Homo sapiens: one gene and its partners. The protein of the gene in region 1 interacts with the protein of each later gene in a pairwise test. Each region holds a gene or a part of one and is shown in the gene's direction. Other genes may lie near its edges.

Region 1 (3,288 bases):
ACACATACACTCTCCCAAGACTAAACCAGGAAGAAGTTGAATCTCTGAATAGACCAATAACAGGATCTGAAATTGTGGCAATAATCAATAGCTTACCAACCAAAAAGAGTCCAGGACCAGATGGATTCACAGCCGAATTCTACCAGAGGTACAAGGAGGAACTAGTACCATTCCTTCTGAAACTATTCCAATCAATTGAAAAAGAGGGAATCCTCCCTAACTCATTTTATGAGGCCAGCATCATCCTGATACCAAAGCCGGGCAGAGACACAACTAAAAAAGAGAATTTTAGACCAATATCCTTGTTGAACATTGATGCAAAAATCCTCAGTAAAATTCTGGCAAACCGAATCCAGCAGCACATCAAAAAGCTTATCCACCATGATCAAGTGGGCTTCATCCCTGGGATGCAAGGCTGGTTCAATATACGCAAATCAATAAATGTAATCCAGCATATAAACAGAACCAAAGACAAAAACCACATGATTATCTCAATAGATGCAGAAAAGGCCTTTGACAAAATTCAACAACCTTCATGCTAAAAACTCTCAATAAATTAGGTATTGATGGGACGTATTTCAAAATAATAAGAGCTATCTATGACAAACCCACAGGCAATATCATACTGAATGGGCAAAAACTGGAAGCATTCCCTTTGAAAACTGGCACAAGACAGGGATGCCCTCTCTCACCACTCCTATTCAACATAGTGTTGGAAGTTCTGGCCAGGGCAATTAGGCAGGAGAAGGAAATAAAGGGTATTCAATTAGGAAAAGAGGAAGTCAAATTGTCCCTGTTTGCAGACAACATGATTGTATATCTAGAAAACCCCATTGTCTCAGCCCAAAATCTCCTTAAGCTGATAAGCAACTTCAGCAAAGTCTCAGGATACAAAATCAAAGTACAAAAATCACAAGCATTCTTATACACCAATAACAGACAGAGAGCCAAATCATGAGTGAACTCCCATTCACAATTGCTTCAAAGAGAATAAAATACTTAGGAATCCAACTTACAAGGGACGTGAAGGACCTCTTCAAGGAGAACTACAAACCACTGCTCAATGAAATAAAAGAGGATACAAACAAATGGAAGAACATTCCATGCTCATGGGTAGGAAGAATCAATATCGTCAAAATGGCCAGACTGCCCAAGGTAATTTACAGATTCAATGCCATCCCCATCAAGCTACCAATGACTTTCTTCACAGAATTGGAAAAAACTACTTTAAAGTTCATATGGAACCAAAAAAGAGCCTGCATTGCCAAGTCAATTCTAAGCCAAAAGAACAAAGCTGGAGGCATCACACTACCTGACTTCAAACTATACTACAAGGCTACAGTAACCAAAACAGCATGGTACTGGTACCAAAACAGGGATATAGATCAATGGAACAGAACAGAGCCCTCAGAAATAACGCCGCATATCTACAACTATCTGATCTTTGACAAACCTGAGAAAAACAAGCAATGGGGAAAGGATTCCCTATTTAATAAATGGTGCTGGGAAAACTGGCTAGCCATATGTAGAAAGCTGAAACTGGATCCCTTCCTTACACCTTATACAAAAATTAATTCAAGATGGATTAAAGACTTAAACGTTAGACCTAAAACCATAAAAACCCTAGAAGAAAACCTAGGCATTACCATTCAGGACATAGGCATGGGCAAGGACTTCATGTCTAAAACACCAAAAGCAATGGCAACAAAAGCCAAAATTGACAAATGGGATCTAATTAAACTAAAGAGCTTCTGCACAGCAAAAGAAACTACCATCAGAGTGAACAGGCAACCTACAAAATGGGAGAAAATTTTCACAACCTACTCATCTGACAAAGGGCTAATATCCAGAATCTACAATGAACTCAAACAAATTTACAAGAAAAAAACAAACAACCCCAACAAAAAGTGGGTGAAGGACATGAACAGACACTTCTCAAAAGAAGACATTTATGCAGCCAAAAATCACATGAAAAATGCTCATCATCACTGGCCATCAGAGAAATGCAAATCAAAACCACAGTGAGATACCATCTCACACCAGTTAGAATGGCAATCATTAAAAAGTCAGGAAACAACAGGTGCTGGAGAGGATGTGGAGAAATAGGAAAACTTTTACACTGTTGGTGGGACTGTAAACTAGTTCAACCATTATGGAAGTCAGTGTGGCGATTCCTCAGGGATCTAGAACTAGAAATACCATTTGACCCAGCCATCCCATTACTGGGTATATACCCAAAGGACTATAAATCATGCTGCTATAAAGACACATGCACACGTATGTTTATTGCGGCATTATTCACAATAGCAGACTTGGAACCAACCCAAATATCCAACAATGATAGAGTGGATTAAGAAAATGTGGCACATATACACCATGGAATACTATGCAGCCATAAAAAATGATGAGTTCATGTCCTTTGTAGGGACATGGGTGAAATTGGAAATCATCATTCTCAGTAAACTATCGCAAGAACAAAAAACCAAACACTGCATATTCTCACTCATAGGTGGGAATTGAACAATGAGAACACATGGACACATTAAGGGTAACATCACACTCTGGGGACTGTTGTGGGGTGGGGGGAGGGGGGAGGGATAGCATTGGGAGATATACCTAATGCTAGATGACGAGTTAGTGGGTGCAGCGCACCAGCATGGCACATGTATACATATGTAACTAACCTGCACATTGTGCACATGTACCCTAAAACTTAAAGTATGATTAAAAAAAAAAAGTACTGTAACCAAATGGTGGGGTCCCTAGGCTATCGTTTAATAAGTAATGATTTTAAAATATTGAAAAAAAAATTTCCAAACCAACAATGAGTTTACAATTTTTGAAAACATGAAGGCTTGGTGCAGTGGCTCATGCCTGTAATCCCAGCACTGTGGGAGGCTGAGACAGGAGGGTCACTTGAGACCAGGAGTTCAAGACCAGCCTGGGCAACATAGCCAGACACTGACACCCCGTCTCTACAAAAAATTTAAAAATTAGCCGGATGTGGTGCTCAGGAGGCTGAGATGAGAGGATTCCTTGAGACCAGGAGTCTGAGGCTGCAGTGAGCTTTGATTGTACCACTGCACTCTAGCCTGGGTGACGGAGTCACCGGAAGGGAGACCCTGTCTCTAAAAAAAAAATTTAAAAAGAGCATATAAAATGGTGAACAAACTAACATTTTGTTAAATCATCAAAAATTTGTATTCTAATTCTCATATTCTTGTATCTTAGGAAACATCATTTTTGAAAAGGTGGCAAATGTAATAAGGTTTTAAATTTAATTTCGGC
Region 2 (7,092 bases), on another chromosome or scaffold:
GGCAGGCAGTGCCCCCATACCAATGGGAACCAAAGTGACACCAGTATGGTGTCATCCACCCCTATCACTGTAGAGTCTACGACTCCTCCCACACTGGGCAGAGGGTCTGGTACAGCTCTCCTGGAAGATTCCCAAGGAAACCAAAATTATTGTAGCAAGGCAGAGTTAATACCAGCTTTATTATGCCAGAGAGTGGGAGACGCCCTATGTGTTTCTAATAAGTTTTTGTCATTTCACTGTTAGCTTGAGTTGCCTTCTCCTTTTGCTGTTATATCATTCCCACTGGCACCTGGAAATCCTTCCAAAATGTTTTCCTGGCCTGGGGCCATCACACAGCCCATCTGCATGGCCAACCTAACTGCTGAGTGTTTGGTCTTATGCCCTTGAATAGCCATGTAGGAACTCCATGGTGGACTGAGCCACTACTGGGTAAAGACTGGATCTCTGTACAAACTTGGATGACCGGACAATGCATATAAATAGGTACCCTAGATTCCTCTAACACCACACATGCAAATGTGAGTGATTGAGATAGGACATTGAACAACTACAGACAAAATTTAAGTTTTTCCCTAAACATGTCCCATAGGAGGCAACCATCAAAGTGAAAACTGCCCTGAAGAGCACCAGGTTCTGGCAATGGAGATCATACTGGCAAATGTGGGATGGCTTTCTTTAGCTCATCCTTACAGCAAGGATGCTCTCGAGTTGCATAGATCTGTTGGGAACAACATAATCACTCTAAAGACATTCAGGTAATACCTAAGGTATTCTCCTAGTACCTAGATTTCCTCCCAATTGCCCAATGCCAACACACCATTATCCTTAAGGTCACAGATTGATTTGTCACAAACAGTCTTGTAGGCCAGGAATATACTGAATTGCCCCAGATGGCACCCAGTGGCTCTCTGCTACTAACCTCCAGCCCTGGCTTCCCCTGGGGTGGCTTGGATGACTCCAGAATCTCTGGCACCATTCCTGTATCCCTCAATGAGTCCATCTGGAGAGGTCAGTGGAGTAGACCTGTTTTTTCTTGGTGGGATTACTTATTGACTATATTTGTGCCTCCAGGAGGTTCTTCTGATACTGTGTAGAAGCTGGAAGCCCTTCAGAGATTTGTCTCCACAGCTTTGAACAACACCAAACATGGTATGGAGGCCTTGAACATTGAAACAGCTGCAGTGAAAAAAGTGGTCTACAAAACCAAATGGCCCTAGAGATGCTGACATCTGTGCAAGGGGGAACCTGTGCCCTTTACAAAAGTGAACATTGTGTGTATATTCTAGACAAAGAAGCTGAAGTTAATCAATCCGTCCTTCACTCACGAAAGCAATTACAGCTTACTGACCACATAGGGTATGCCTGGTGGTCTACACAAAGTCATGTTTTCCAGGATGGGGTCCTTGGTGGAAAGCTCTGCTAGGAAGCCTTTTGGAAAATGTGATTTTAGATTTTGTCAGGTGCACTTGTATTTACTGTTAGTGTAGGTTTTGTTTGCAGTGTTTCATAAAGCCAGGGGAAAGAAATTGCCGATGATCCCACCCTTTCTGACCAGCTCAGGGAACATATAGGAAGAGATGGGCATGTGAGATTGTAAGAGCCAGTCAGGAAAATGGATTGCAGGATCTCTGACTGGAAATCACAGAGCCTTGACTATTCTGTGACTGAAAATCAGAGTGCCTTGACCTCTCTGTGACCTAGCCAGCTGCAGATTTTTTCCCAGCATGCTTGAACCCAAACTTGGGTCTTGAACATTCCCAGGCACTGATAAAGGTATCTAAGTTGTCACTGAAAACAGTGAAAGAAACTAGCTCTGGCCCTGAGCCAAATTCTTTAAACCCTTATATAAACTCCATACCCTGACCCCCTCACTGCAGACATATCTAGGTAGAATGTCCCTTTTCTCTCACCACCCATGGGGAGGATTCCTGCAACACTATGTAAGTTCCCTTAATAAATGCTTTGGACAGATCACCTTGGCACATAGTGCTCCTTTCTTTGGAATCCCAACCAGCCCCAACTAGGACGGTTTTGGGCACTCCCTTGTGTGAACTCCCCTGCCACCACTTTTGGGGGACAAAACAGTACATATCTAATAGAATCATCTTGTTAAAAAGCAAGGGAACAACAAATACAAAATTTGTGATAGTGTTTCCTCGGATGAGAGGTAGTATAGAGAGGGACTAGAAAAAGAGTAGTATTAAATCTAAGTTGTTGTCAATCTACAGTTCTTATAGACTAGGTAATGGATTAAAAAATGTTCACACTTTAAGGCCATGCATGGACCAATGACAGCCAGTGGTTTTAATTAATACCATTTTGAATATCTGAGTTCCACTGGGGTAAGGGGATGAATCAAACAAGGCCTCAGAAGAAAAGTTGTCTGGGAATGCAGGAAGGTTTTGCAGAGGAGATGAAGTTTCAGTTGCAACCCTGCTGCGTGGGCTTCAATTTCACCACCTGAGATTTAAATAGAGGCAGGAGTCACTCAGGCTAGAATGCAGTGGTGCAATCACAGCTCACTATTGCAGCCACCACCTCCTGGGCTCAGGCGATCCTCCCACCTCAGCCTCCCGAGTAGCTGGGAGTACAAGTGCATTCCACAACCCCCGACTAATTTTTTTTTTTTTTAATTTTTGTAGAGACGAGGTCCCAACTATGTTGCCCAGGCTGGTCTCGAACTCCTGAGTTCAATTAATCCTCCTGCCTTTGCCTCCCAAAGCGGGGAATTAGAAAAGTGAGCCAACACGCCCGGCCCACTAGTGTTAAAAAATAAAAACAAAAGCAATAATCTGACAGATAGAGCCAGGGAGGGCTATGAAGAGACACTTCTCAGGCTTGTATGCCTCATAAGAAAACTATCACATATGACTGCAAAACCCATCTTACACCAAAAATACCTCTGCAAGGACATCCGCCCAGCAACTGTTTGTCTAACCTCAGACTGGTGTCATCCTCGTTACCGATCTTTGTAGTCAAGAATAATGATTTCAAAACAATTAAATAATCCTCCCCATTCTTCCTTTAAAAACCTTTGTCTTCCTTTACCTCCCTGAATAGAAACATAGTTTACTCTGGCACGTCTATTCTTATTGCAATTTCCTATTCCCGAATAAACTTTTTTTTTTTTTTTTGAGATGGATCCTTGCTCTGTCGCCCAGGCTGGAGTGCAGTGGCGTGATCTCAGCTCACTGCAACCTTCACCTCCTGGGTTCAAGCGATTCTTCTGTCTTAGCCTCCCAAGTAGCTGGGACTACAGGCGCCCACCACCACACCCAGCTAATTTTTATATTTTTAGTACAGACGGGGTTTCACCATGTTGGCCAGGCTGGCCTTGAACTCCTTGTTAAATACAGTGAGTTCTAAATTTCTCTTCAAAGAATCAGTATGTCAGTATGTTCAATTCTTTGTTCTCCATTTTAAACTTTAACTTCCTCATTTTCCTCGTCTCCTTGCCTCTAGTTTCAGTAAACAACCTTTTCCACCAGTTCTAATCAGTAGTTCACATCTGTTCCCCTGGTGACCTGCTCCGTCCTGAGTCACCCCTGGTCACCTGCTCTGACCTGAGTCACCTTTAGTCACCTGTTCCGTAACCGTCCTTCCCACTGAAACTGCTCACCCTACCACTCCGGCTCATACCCCTGCTCTCTTTAAAATAGCCAATCGGAATTAACTTAGACTGTGCGGTCCAACCCTAGCCAGTAGGGGAACGACACAGCACTAGGGACTACCTGCGTCAGGGATAAGAACCCCTTCCCCTCCCTTGTTCAGGTGTGCTCTCGCCATTGCTCCATCCGTGAGACGCACCCTTCTATAGAAGTAAATTGCTTTGCTGAGAAAATGTGTGCTCGAGTGTGTATCTTTTTCTTCTTCTTCTTTTTCTGAGACTGAGTCTCACTCTGTCACCCAAGCTGGAGTGCAGTGGCGCGGTCTCGGCTCACTGCAAGCTCCGCCTCCCGGGTTCAAGCGATTCTCCTGCCTCAGCCTCCCGAGCACCTGGAACTACAGGCGCGTGCCACCACGCCCGGCAATTTTTTTTTTTTTTTTTTTTTTTGTATTTTTAGTAGACACAGGGTGTCACCGCGTAAACCAGGATAGTCTCGATCTCCTGACCTCGTGATCCGCCCGTCTCGGCCTCCCAAAGTGCTGGGACTGCAGGCGTGAGCCACCGCGCCCGGCCAACGTCATTTTCTTTTCAGGAGTCCCTTCTGTTATTTAGCAAGACACACTACTACAATGGAGAAAAAAGATGCCCCCTCCTTCAAGCCCTGAGATCTTCAGGACTTTGGCGAAAAGTCTGCGCCCGAAGAGACCCAGGAAGGATTCTTGGAATTGTAGTCCAAAGGCATCCCGCCTTCTGCGCAGACTCACAAGTCCCTGTGGACGGAATTCTTGAAGTGTAGCGCCGCTCAGTCCTTCCACCGGAAGTGTCCGATCGGAATCAGCCCTGTCCGAGAGGTGAGTCCGGGTTTGGGGATCCAGATGTCCAGCCCCGTGTCCCCCTCCAAACATCCAGTCCCTCTCATATTGCCTTTGAAATTAGCAGCCTCTGGGTGACCAGACCTTGGCCCTCAGAGGAATCCCGGAGAAAGGTAGAACCAGCTTCGGCGTTGGGAACGCAGGCGCGCTTACGCATTTAGTGAGGGTTTGGCGGTCTCCATAGTTACCGCCGCCGCGCGTGACGTCATAGTGGAGCGCTGAGGGCTTGGTGGCGTGGGGTGGGGGCTGTCCTACTGATCCTGAATTTGGGGTCACTGGTAAGAGGAGTTGCCCATTCCAGCCAGGTGGAACGGGGAGGGGTGCCACATGTCTCAGATCTGCCATTGTCTGCGAAAAGAAACTGCTGCGAGGACCATCCCCAATCCCCTGCTTCCCTTGGGAAGAGTAACCGCCGTTTTGTAGGACACTTGGGGACAACCCCGCTTGTCCTGAAATTTATTGACACGGTAAATAGTATTTCCTGTGTGCCGAGGATGCAGTTAAACCAACACTGACCCCCTGCCCTTGAGAAACACAAGGTACTATGGGAGCCTTTACCAGCATGCCCCTTGAAGTCTCTGTTCTGCTTTGTGGTCTCTACCGGATTTCCCCTGACTGTCTCCCTCTCCACCAACAAAACTCTCACCCGTCTTCCCCTCCCGCAACATGCCCACCAAGACATGTTCATCCATCAGGAGCCCTGCTCTTTAACCTCCAACTTTCTCATCATAATTAATTACTCGTTCCTCTCTGTTCTCCTAGCGTTTCTTCACACATCTGCTTACCCATTTTTGTAAGTCCTCCTAACACAATATTATAAGGCACTAGATGCTCAATCAATATTTATTAGTTTAAAGCTACCAGCTTTAGGGGGACTCGGTTTTAAATAGATGAGAAGTGATAAAACACCTGGAGATAGTACTGTCAGCTGAGATAACATGTCATAGAACCAGCTGCTCAGCATAATTGAAATTTCATTCGGATTATATGGGCCTACTTTACACCCATCTTACTATGGTAAATGAGATCATGCTCATTAAGCATTAGGACACTACTTGGTTAGCGCATCTAGGAAACATAACCAGAAATATCAAAGAAATGGCCCAGTAAAATATAAGGGATTGAGACTCTCTGGTTAATATACCATGGAACTAACCCCCCTTTTTTTTCTTTATCATTGATAAATTTTGTTCTTACTTATACTCAAATTGTTTGTTTTCCAAGGTTCAGTCTGAACCTAGTGATATTTATTTCATACTCTTGGAGAATTAATACTGTTACATATCTTCAACTACCCTTTTCATGAATCTTGTCTGCCAAGACAAGCTCGGTCATGGAGACCCTAACCCAGTGGCGCTAGAGGAATTAAAGACACACACAGAAATATAGAGTGTGGAGTGGGAAATGAGGGGTCTCACAGCCTTCAGAGCTGAGAGCCTTGAACAGAGATTTACCCACTTATTTATTGACAGCAAGCCAGTGATAAGATTTACTGAAAGTATTCCTTACGGGAAATAAAGGGATGGGCCGAAATAAAGGGATGGGCTCTGGCTAGTTATCTGCAGCATGAACATGTCCTTAAGGCACAGATCGCTCATGCTATTGTTTTCTGCCCTGGGTGGGCCAGGTGTTCCTTGCCCTCATTCCAGTAAACTGACAACCTTCCAGCGTGGGCGTCAAGGCCATCATGAGCATGTCACAGTGCTGCAGAGATTTTGTTCATGGCCAGTTTTGGGGCCAGTTTATGGCCAGATTTGGGGGCCTGTTCCCAACACTTGTCAAAATCTGTCTTCCCATTCCAAATTCTTTTCCATTATTGAAATATCATTGTTTCTGTTGGAAATATTTTTCCAAGTAGATGTCTTATTATCATCTTAAATACAGATCATCCAAAACAGAAGTCATCTGAAACTTTCCTAATTTTTCCTTTCAATCATAAATATGAAGCCTTAAGAACAATTAATAATGCATGATCCTTAACCTCATGGAACATCAATCAGTTGATAAAAAAACAGCCAAACAACTAAAAATAATACAAGGACTTATATATTCATATGTGTATGTGTTAGGAATTGTAAGAACTCAGACTAGAGTTGAGCAATTTCTTAACAGAGGCAGTAGAATTCTTAGTCACTCCAGCCATCACACCCTGCAAGTTGATCTCACCATCAGTCTGCTGCTCATTCCTACTTCCTCTACTCTGTTCCTTTCCTTTCTGAATCTTTCTCATCCTTTATTGTCCAATTTAAGCCCCATGTTAAATACAGTGAGTTCTAAATTTCTCTTCAAAGAATCAGTATGTCAGTATGTTCAGTTCTTTGTTCTCCACTTTAAAGTTTAACCTCATCTCCTTGCCCCTAGTTTCAGTAAACAACCTTTTCCACCAGTTCCAATCAGTAGTTCACATCTATTCCCCTGGTCACCTGCTCTGTCCTGAGTCACCCCTGGTCATCTGCTCTGACCTGCATCACCTTTAATCGCCTGTTCTGTAACCGTCCTTCCCACTGAAACTGCTCACCCCGCCACTGTGGTTCATACCCCTGCTTTCTTTAAAACAGCCAGTTGGAATTAGCTTAGACTATGCAGTCCAACCCTAGCCAATAGGGGAACGAC
Region 3 (7,147 bases), on another chromosome or scaffold:
TGGACACTCCACAGAAGGGCATCTCAGGATGAGGGAACTCCCTGTGCAAGGACCCGGAAACAGAAGGTATGGACAGGGATGATGTAGCCGGAGCTCAGCCTGGCTGGGGAGGGCACCACAGCAGCAGCAGGGCCGAGCCTGGCCCAGGACCTAGCAGGTGGGCCCCTGAAGGAGCCCAGACCCCCAGGTGGCCTTGGTGAACCCCTGCTGACTGTTCGCAGCAGCACGCACACCCAGTGGCAGTTTCTGTCTTAGTGAGGCCACCTCGGTGCCATCCCCTGCTCTGTGTCCGCTCCCCTTGCCCAGGCTCAAGCATGGGAGGCCCAGGATGGTGCCCTCCGTACCCAGGCCCAGGGCATAAAGAGATAAGCCCAGTCACACTGAGATGAGATGGGATTTTGCTTGACAAATATTTGTTTGAAAATGGTTTCCCCTATTTACAGTTTTGAAGCCCAAGCCACAGCATCCAAACCACCTCCACCTGCTGGAAAGGCCTGACAGGGGCAGAGGCCCAGGGAGGAGGCCACTGCTGCTTCCCATGGAGACAGAGCAGGGCAGGCAGTGGGGTGGAGGCCAAGGGGCTCACAGCACCACCCCAGGAGGAGCAGTGGGCCAGACCCCTGGGCCTGGGACCTGCCTCGGACAGAGCACCTACGAGGCTCCCAGCTGCCTGTGCCCGCTTCCTACGGTCCCAGGCCCCCCTCATCGTTGCTCCCAGGACAAGCAGGTGAAGGAACAGGGCAGCGGGGTACGGTTAGGGTTAGGGCTGGGGTTAGGATTAGGGTTAGGATTTGGTTTGGGATTAGGGTTAGGGTCAGGTTGGGATTAGGCTTAGGTTTGGGGTTGGGATTATGGTTAGGATTTGGGCTAGTGCTTGGGGTGTTTTTGGCAGTGTTTAGTGTTAGGGTTAGGGCTGGGTTGGGGTTTGGTTTAATGTTCCTTTTGGGATTTGGTTTTGGGTTGGCGTCTGGGTTAACTTTAGCGTGTGGTGTGGGTTGAGGTTATTGCTTTCTGGCAGGACAGTGTTGGGGTTAGAGTCGGGTTTAGGGTTCATGTTACTGTTCAGGCTAGCATTGGGGTAGGGTTAAAGTTTGCTTTGGTTTTGGGTCCCATTAGAGTTAGGTTTAGCATTTGATATAGGTTGGAATTTGGGTTAATATTGCAGTTGGGGTCATTGTTAGATACACACTTGGGCCAATTCAGGGCCTTCTCACCACCTGTGGAGGGCAGCTGTAGCCCGATTCTGCAGGGGACTCCAGAGTTTCAGTTGGAGCACCTGTTGTTTGTGGGAGAGTGGGAAGATACCTCTCACCTTCCCATTCTCTAGGGCTCATAGTCAGAACCCTTGCTCAATCTGTTCTTGTGGGTGGGGATTGGAAGATGAGGCAGGGAACTGGTCAGCATGGCTAGCTGATGCTGGAGCCCCTGTATGTGGCTGTCTGCGGGTGCCTCACTGTCAATGACTTCCCTGACGTGCTGTCCTTTCTTTTATACTCAGCCACCAGGGCCAGAAGCCTGGCATCACACCAGGCTATTCCTATCTCCCCCACCTCCATCCATCCATGCATTCTTTGGCACATTTAACCATGAGCCCCAGTGTGGTGCCACTTCCTGCCCTGCTCCCTGACCACAGTAGAGGACCACGCATCCCAGCGGGGAGATTGATGTCCACATCAACAGACAGATCAGATAGCTCTGGAACGCAGTAAGAGACACGCAAAAAACAAAATAGGGCAACGAGATTGAGCCATGGGGATGGTGATGTCAAACAGAGTGGTCCGTAGAGGTCTGAATGAGGGCAGGGGCCTGAGGAGAGGGTCCTCCATGGCCCCAGGGCATCACCTCGAAGTCCTGCCACTTTCATCCCTTCTTCCCAACCCGGCTGAAACCTTGCCTCCTCCAGGAAGCCTGCCTGATGCCCCAGGCTCTGCTGCACTGACTGTAGTTTCCCCATCTGCAAAAAGGGGCTAGTACCACTTCCCCTACAGGGGCATTGCAGGGATGCTCCCAGACCCACAACCAATGCCTGCTTTCTCTCCGCCTTCCTAGCTTAAGGGGGCTGGAGTGGGAAGGATAGAAGAGAGGGCAGGGAGGGTGGGGACGGGAGGTGCGTGCAGCATGGGGGAGGGGCTCTCCTGGGGCCTTCCCAGGCAGGCCTGAGCTGAAGCCTGCAAGCTGCTGGAGCTGAAGCAGGAGCCGCCCCCACCCCACCCGCCCCTCCCCCGCCTCCCCAGCCATCTGTGGCGTTGGCAGCAGCAGTGCCAGGGCGGGCGGTGAACATTCTGGCACCATCTGAGCAGGACCAGCCTCTGGGGAAGGGCCGCAGCCCAGGAGGAGGCAATGTGGGCAGAGCCCTGCCTGTACCCCAGGTTCCACATCCCCCATTGGTGTTTGTCCCCTTAGGGACTGGGGAGGGAAGGGACACTGGAGCTGGCAGGCTGGGCCTCACTACCTCTCACAGGATGCCTCCACTGCTGTGTGCTGCCTGAATGGTGTCTGAACCTGAGAGGCCAGAGTGGAGGTCAGGGAGCCTGTCCCTACTCCTGCTGGGGAGACTAAGGCCCCCTTGAGCAAAGAGGCTGGTCCCGTGGTGCACACCAGCGACGGTTTGGGCGAAGTCTGTCCACGCTTCGCCCAAACTGGGAGAGCCCCGCCCTGAGCTGCCGCCTCTCATTTTGTCTTGACTGTGGTGGGGTGCACTTGGAGGCGCCTCCCTCTGTCCATTGGTTACCCAATCATGTCCCTGGGACCTGAGAGGGAGCAGAGACAGGACTTTGCTTGACACGAAGTGGCTCCAGTCAGCTGCTGGTTCTTTTGCTTGTCTCCTTTTTTTCTGGGTTTCCCCTCTTGCCTTGCTATCAGTGCCTTTTCTCAGCACTGACACTGCCTGAATGTAGCAACCTACTCCCCAGATTAAATGAGAGAGCGTAGAAACTGCAAAGCATACAACATACAGCATATAAGGATGGTGGTGATGGCAGCTCAACAGTGGGAACTCAGTGTCCCCAAACTGTACACTTTAAAAGTGGTTAAAATGGTAAATTTTATGTTTTCCATGTTTTCCACAATTAAAAAACAAAAATATACAAGGTACTCATTCGCAGCATCTTCTAATCTGCCATGTACTTGGAAATGATATAAGCATGTGTGAACCATGAGCCCATAGGTCCCGAGGGAGGATATGAGCGAAGCACACGGGCTTTGCCAGCTCTGTTTCCACCACGCAGGACCCTCCCTGGCTGCCAGTGCTCCTCCCCGGGTTCCCACGCTGGCTGCTGCTGGGCTGGCTGGGATGGAAGACCCTCATGTAGCTGGCACCCTCAGGGCTGCCCCTTGCCCGCTCTGGGAGGAGAGAGGAGGGTTCACGCTGCACCTTTACCAGGGTAGGACTGGCCAGCCTGGGCTCTACCGGGCAGGTCGGTGGGATGCTTCAGACTGGAGGGATAGGCAGGGGGCAACACTGGTCCTCCTGAAGCCACCTTCCCTTCCTGAGAGCTCCTTGGGGAGAAGGCAAGCCCTGGAAGCCACCGACTGGGGGCTCGGGCAGAGCAAGGGCAGGGTAAGGGGCAGCTTGGCCAGGAGGCACCCTTGGGAGCCAGGGTTTCCTCATCTGTAAAATGTGACTCTGCGAGGGCAGGAGCTTGGTTTCACTCGCTACTGTACCCCCTGGGGCCTACAGCAGGGCTGGTTGGTACACACTAGGTGTCTAATAAATGTTGAGGGATTGAATGGATGGACCGATGAAAAGGTTGGGCAGGTCATTACTGACAGCCTCTGGGTTTCAAGGGCCCATTCACTCTGTCACTCACCTTCGCGCCCGTGCATTAGTTCTCTCATTTATTCATTCCCCCCGCCCCCCCAGCCCCGCATGCTCTACCGCACTCATTCATTCACGCGCTCAGCCATTCAAGCTGGCGCGGGTTCATTCATTCCCTGCCCCTCTGCCATTCCTCGCCTGGCCCCCGCGCACGCCGCACCCCCGCGCCCCTGCCCGGCCCTGCGCCCACCACTTGCGCCCCGGCCGGGCGCTGCCGGGAGGACGCGCGGGCTCAGCCGCGGCTGCGCGGGGCCGGGGCTGGCGGGGAGCCGGGCTGGGGGCGGGGGGCGGGCGCTCCCTGCGGGAAGCCGGGCGGGGTGGGGGAGCCCCGGCCGCGCCGGCTCCCGGCGCGCTCGGCCTCGGAGGGGAGGGGGCGGCGGTAGCGGCGGCGGCGGTGAGCGGCGCGGCTGCCCTGGGGCCATGTGGACTGGCGGTCGCCGGCCGGGCCGGCTGCGCCGGGCGGTGAGTACCTGCGAGCCGGGAGGGCAGGGCGCGGGCGCGGGCGCGGAGGCGGGGCGGGCGCCACCCACGCCTGGGGCGGTCCCTGCTCAGCGCGGGAGGTGGCCGGCCCCCCGCCCCGCTCCCCTCCGCGCTGCGCCCCCGCCGTGGAGGCTTCACTGGCCCGGGAGGAGCCGGGCCGGGTCTCCTGGGAACTGGGCACTCTCGGGTGGGGCGGGGATGCCCAGCCTCCGCGCGCCGCCGGGAGCGCCCGGGTCCTATCGCGGGGTCCTTGCGCCCTGACACGCGCGCCCCTGCGGCGGAAGGAAAGGAGGGACGGGTGACCAAGGGCGCGGCCGGAGGACTGGGGACCCGCCGCTGTCCCGGGCGGGTGGCGAGGGTGCGGGCAGGCCTGGACCCGCCTGCGTCTGGGGGCAGGGCCAGCCCCTGCTTGGGAGGCCGGAGAAAGGCCCGGGAGCCGGAAGGAGGCTGGACCCGGGGCCGCCTCATTGAGCGTTTGCAGCGCGTGGGCGCGCACGAACCTCGGACACCACCATCCCATTCAGTACCTCGCGGCAGGTACTATCCTCCTGCCCCTTTACAGGCGAGGAAACTGAGGCTCAGGGAGGCCAGGGCCTCGCCCAGAGCGGCTCAGCCGGCGCGCTCACCCTCCCTGAGCCCCAGCACGTTGGATGGGAATTTCTGCCCCAGCGTTTCCGCTTCCTGCTTGGTTTAGAGGTGTTTCCTTCCTCGTCTGTGCCCCACCCCATCCCCAATGTGGTTTCCTCAGGGCAGGAACAGCGTGGGCGACGCGCTGGAGTCTCCTGAGCCGGCAGAATGGGAGCAGAGTGGGCACCCGGGAGCGGGGCCGGATGGATAGGGAGCACTGCACGTGCAAAGTCCGCATGGCCAAGGTCGGCCGCCAGTGCAGACTGGGGGTCCAGGCCCTGGGGGTATGGGTGGGGCGGGGTCTCCACAGCCAGGCTCCGTCGGAGGCCCCAGTGCTCTGGCTCTCTGGAGGCCATGGACAGGTTCTTTTCCTTCTCTGGACCCTAGTTCCTCTGCCTGCCAAGAGCAGCAGAGACCCCCACTACTCCCAGGGCCAGGCTCCCACGAGGACTGTGGGCAGAAGCCCCTAACAAACTGCGGTGTGCAGCCCTGCCAGGCTGGCCTTGGTCTTGCCAGCAGGGGCAACTGGCCGTTGGGGGTGGCTCTGCCTGGCATCTGTGACACGCAGGGCGGGGAGACGGCAGAGAGGGCCCCAGCAGCATCCTGCAAACCCTTAATTTTCCCGACTCTCACTATAATCAGGGCAGCTTGGAAAAGCAAGCACTGTGGCAGATGCGGCTCTGCCCGGGCTCAGCACACGGGCTCTGGGCGATGGGCGGCTGCGCTGCCGCCAAGGGCCCTCCCCAGCTTTTGTCTCATATTTATAGATTCCAAGGCTCCGCGTTCCGTTTGTCGTCAAAACCTGGAGCTGTTCGCACCTGGGAGCTGAGTGGGGAGGGGAGGGCTGCCTAGAACCTCAGCCTGGAGGATGAGTTTTCCATGCGCTGGGGTGGAGTAGGGGGACACCTGTCAGAGCCCAGGCCTGGAGAGAGGAAATGAGCCCTAAGCAATCTGGAAGATCTTCCATCCACTCTCCCAAGACTTGGGCGCAGGGTCTGGCCCACATAGCTGCCATTTATGGAACGCCTGCTATGTACTGGGCCCTGGATCAGCATTTCCACGCATCATCTCCACGGCAACACTTTGAAGGAGCTTCCCTACTCCTGCAGGCACTCCTGATGCTGAAGAGTGGATGGATGGATGAATGGATGGATGGATGGATGGATGGATGGATGGATGGATGGATGGGAGGGAGGGAGGGATGGATGGGAGGGATGGATGGATGGGAGGGAGGGAGGGAGGGATGGATGGATGGGAGGGAGGGAGGGAGGGATGGATGGGAGGGAGGGAAGGAGGGATGGATGGGAGGGATGGGAGGGATGGATGGATGGGATGGATGGATGGATGGATGGGAGGGAGGGAGGGAGGGAGGGATGGATGGATGGATGGATGGATGGATGGATGGATGGGAGGGATTGACTGAAGCCCATGAGTCCATGGCTATTGGACACAGTCCACAAATCATTACCCAGGGTCCCAGGAGGTGGGGTCCAAGGGCTGAGTAGTTGCTGAACAGATGAAGGGGTCAAGGTGTGTTACAGGAGCCTGGCCCAAGGCCTGAAGGTGATGGGGAGAGTGTAGAGTGTTCAAGTCTCAAGACTTAGAGAGGCTGTGTCCTGCTGGAGTGTGGAAGCCATGGCGGTGGGGAGGTGTGGCTCCTCCCCCTAAGGGAGGTAAGGATCCCTGGGACAGATGGGTGGGTGACCCTAGGACTCGCCGTGTTGGTCTAGAATCACCCCGCATGGTTCTCTTCTGACTCCCCTTCCTGCCGCAGAGCTGGTCGCTAGCCTTAGTGGAGAGGCCTGGACGGAGGTCTGCAGCCCTGGGTTCTGGTTCCTCCTCTGCCGCTGACTCACTGTCTCCTCTCTAGGGCTCCGTATCAGAAGCTTAACACCCATTACAGTCAGGGGAGTGACTTCTGTGGCCTGAGAGCAGGCATCAGATTGTAGCCTGTGGTGGGAGAAGCTGGCCAGAGGTGTCTCTATTGCTTTAATCATTATAGGAATGAATGAATGAATGAATGATGAATGACTAAGTGTGTGAATTCTACACTCACCTAACATGCTGTACCTAAGCACCCACTCTGCACTGCTCATTGGGGTCACTTAGGTGAGTCTGACACAGACCTTGCCCTCCACGAGTCCACAGTTTGCTGGGAGACATGGACCTTGGCCAGTACGGCAGGAGTCAGGAGCTGCTGGGGCTCTTCTCTCCCCTCTAGCC

Evidence for each region. Proteins that work in one complex are often made in the same cells at the same time.
Region 2: the proteins of MAB21L3 (region 1) and ZNF165 interact in binary tests that used the Homo sapiens proteins (3 or more experiments, as listed by UniProt).
Region 3: the proteins of MAB21L3 (region 1) and BEGAIN interact in binary tests that used the Homo sapiens proteins (3 or more experiments, as listed by UniProt).

The regions. Positions count from the first base shown.
Region 1 is NC_000001.11:116,135,399-116,138,686, forward strand, and holds the end of MAB21L3 (protein mab-21-like 3), read left to right. Parts: 3' UTR 1-2,751; downstream 2,752-3,288.
Region 2 is NC_000006.12:28,076,513-28,083,604, forward strand, and holds the start of ZNF165 (zinc finger protein 165), read left to right. Parts: upstream 1-4,055; 5' UTR 4,056-4,458; exon of another isoform or gene 4,459-5,018; intron 5,019-7,092. UniProt on the Homo sapiens protein: May be involved in transcriptional regulation.
Region 3 is NC_000014.9:100,584,381-100,591,527, reverse strand, and holds the start of BEGAIN (brain-enriched guanylate kinase-associated protein), read left to right. Parts: upstream 1-4,110; 5' UTR 4,111-4,237; coding exon 4,238-4,279; intron 4,280-7,147. UniProt on the Homo sapiens protein: May sustain the structure of the postsynaptic density (PSD).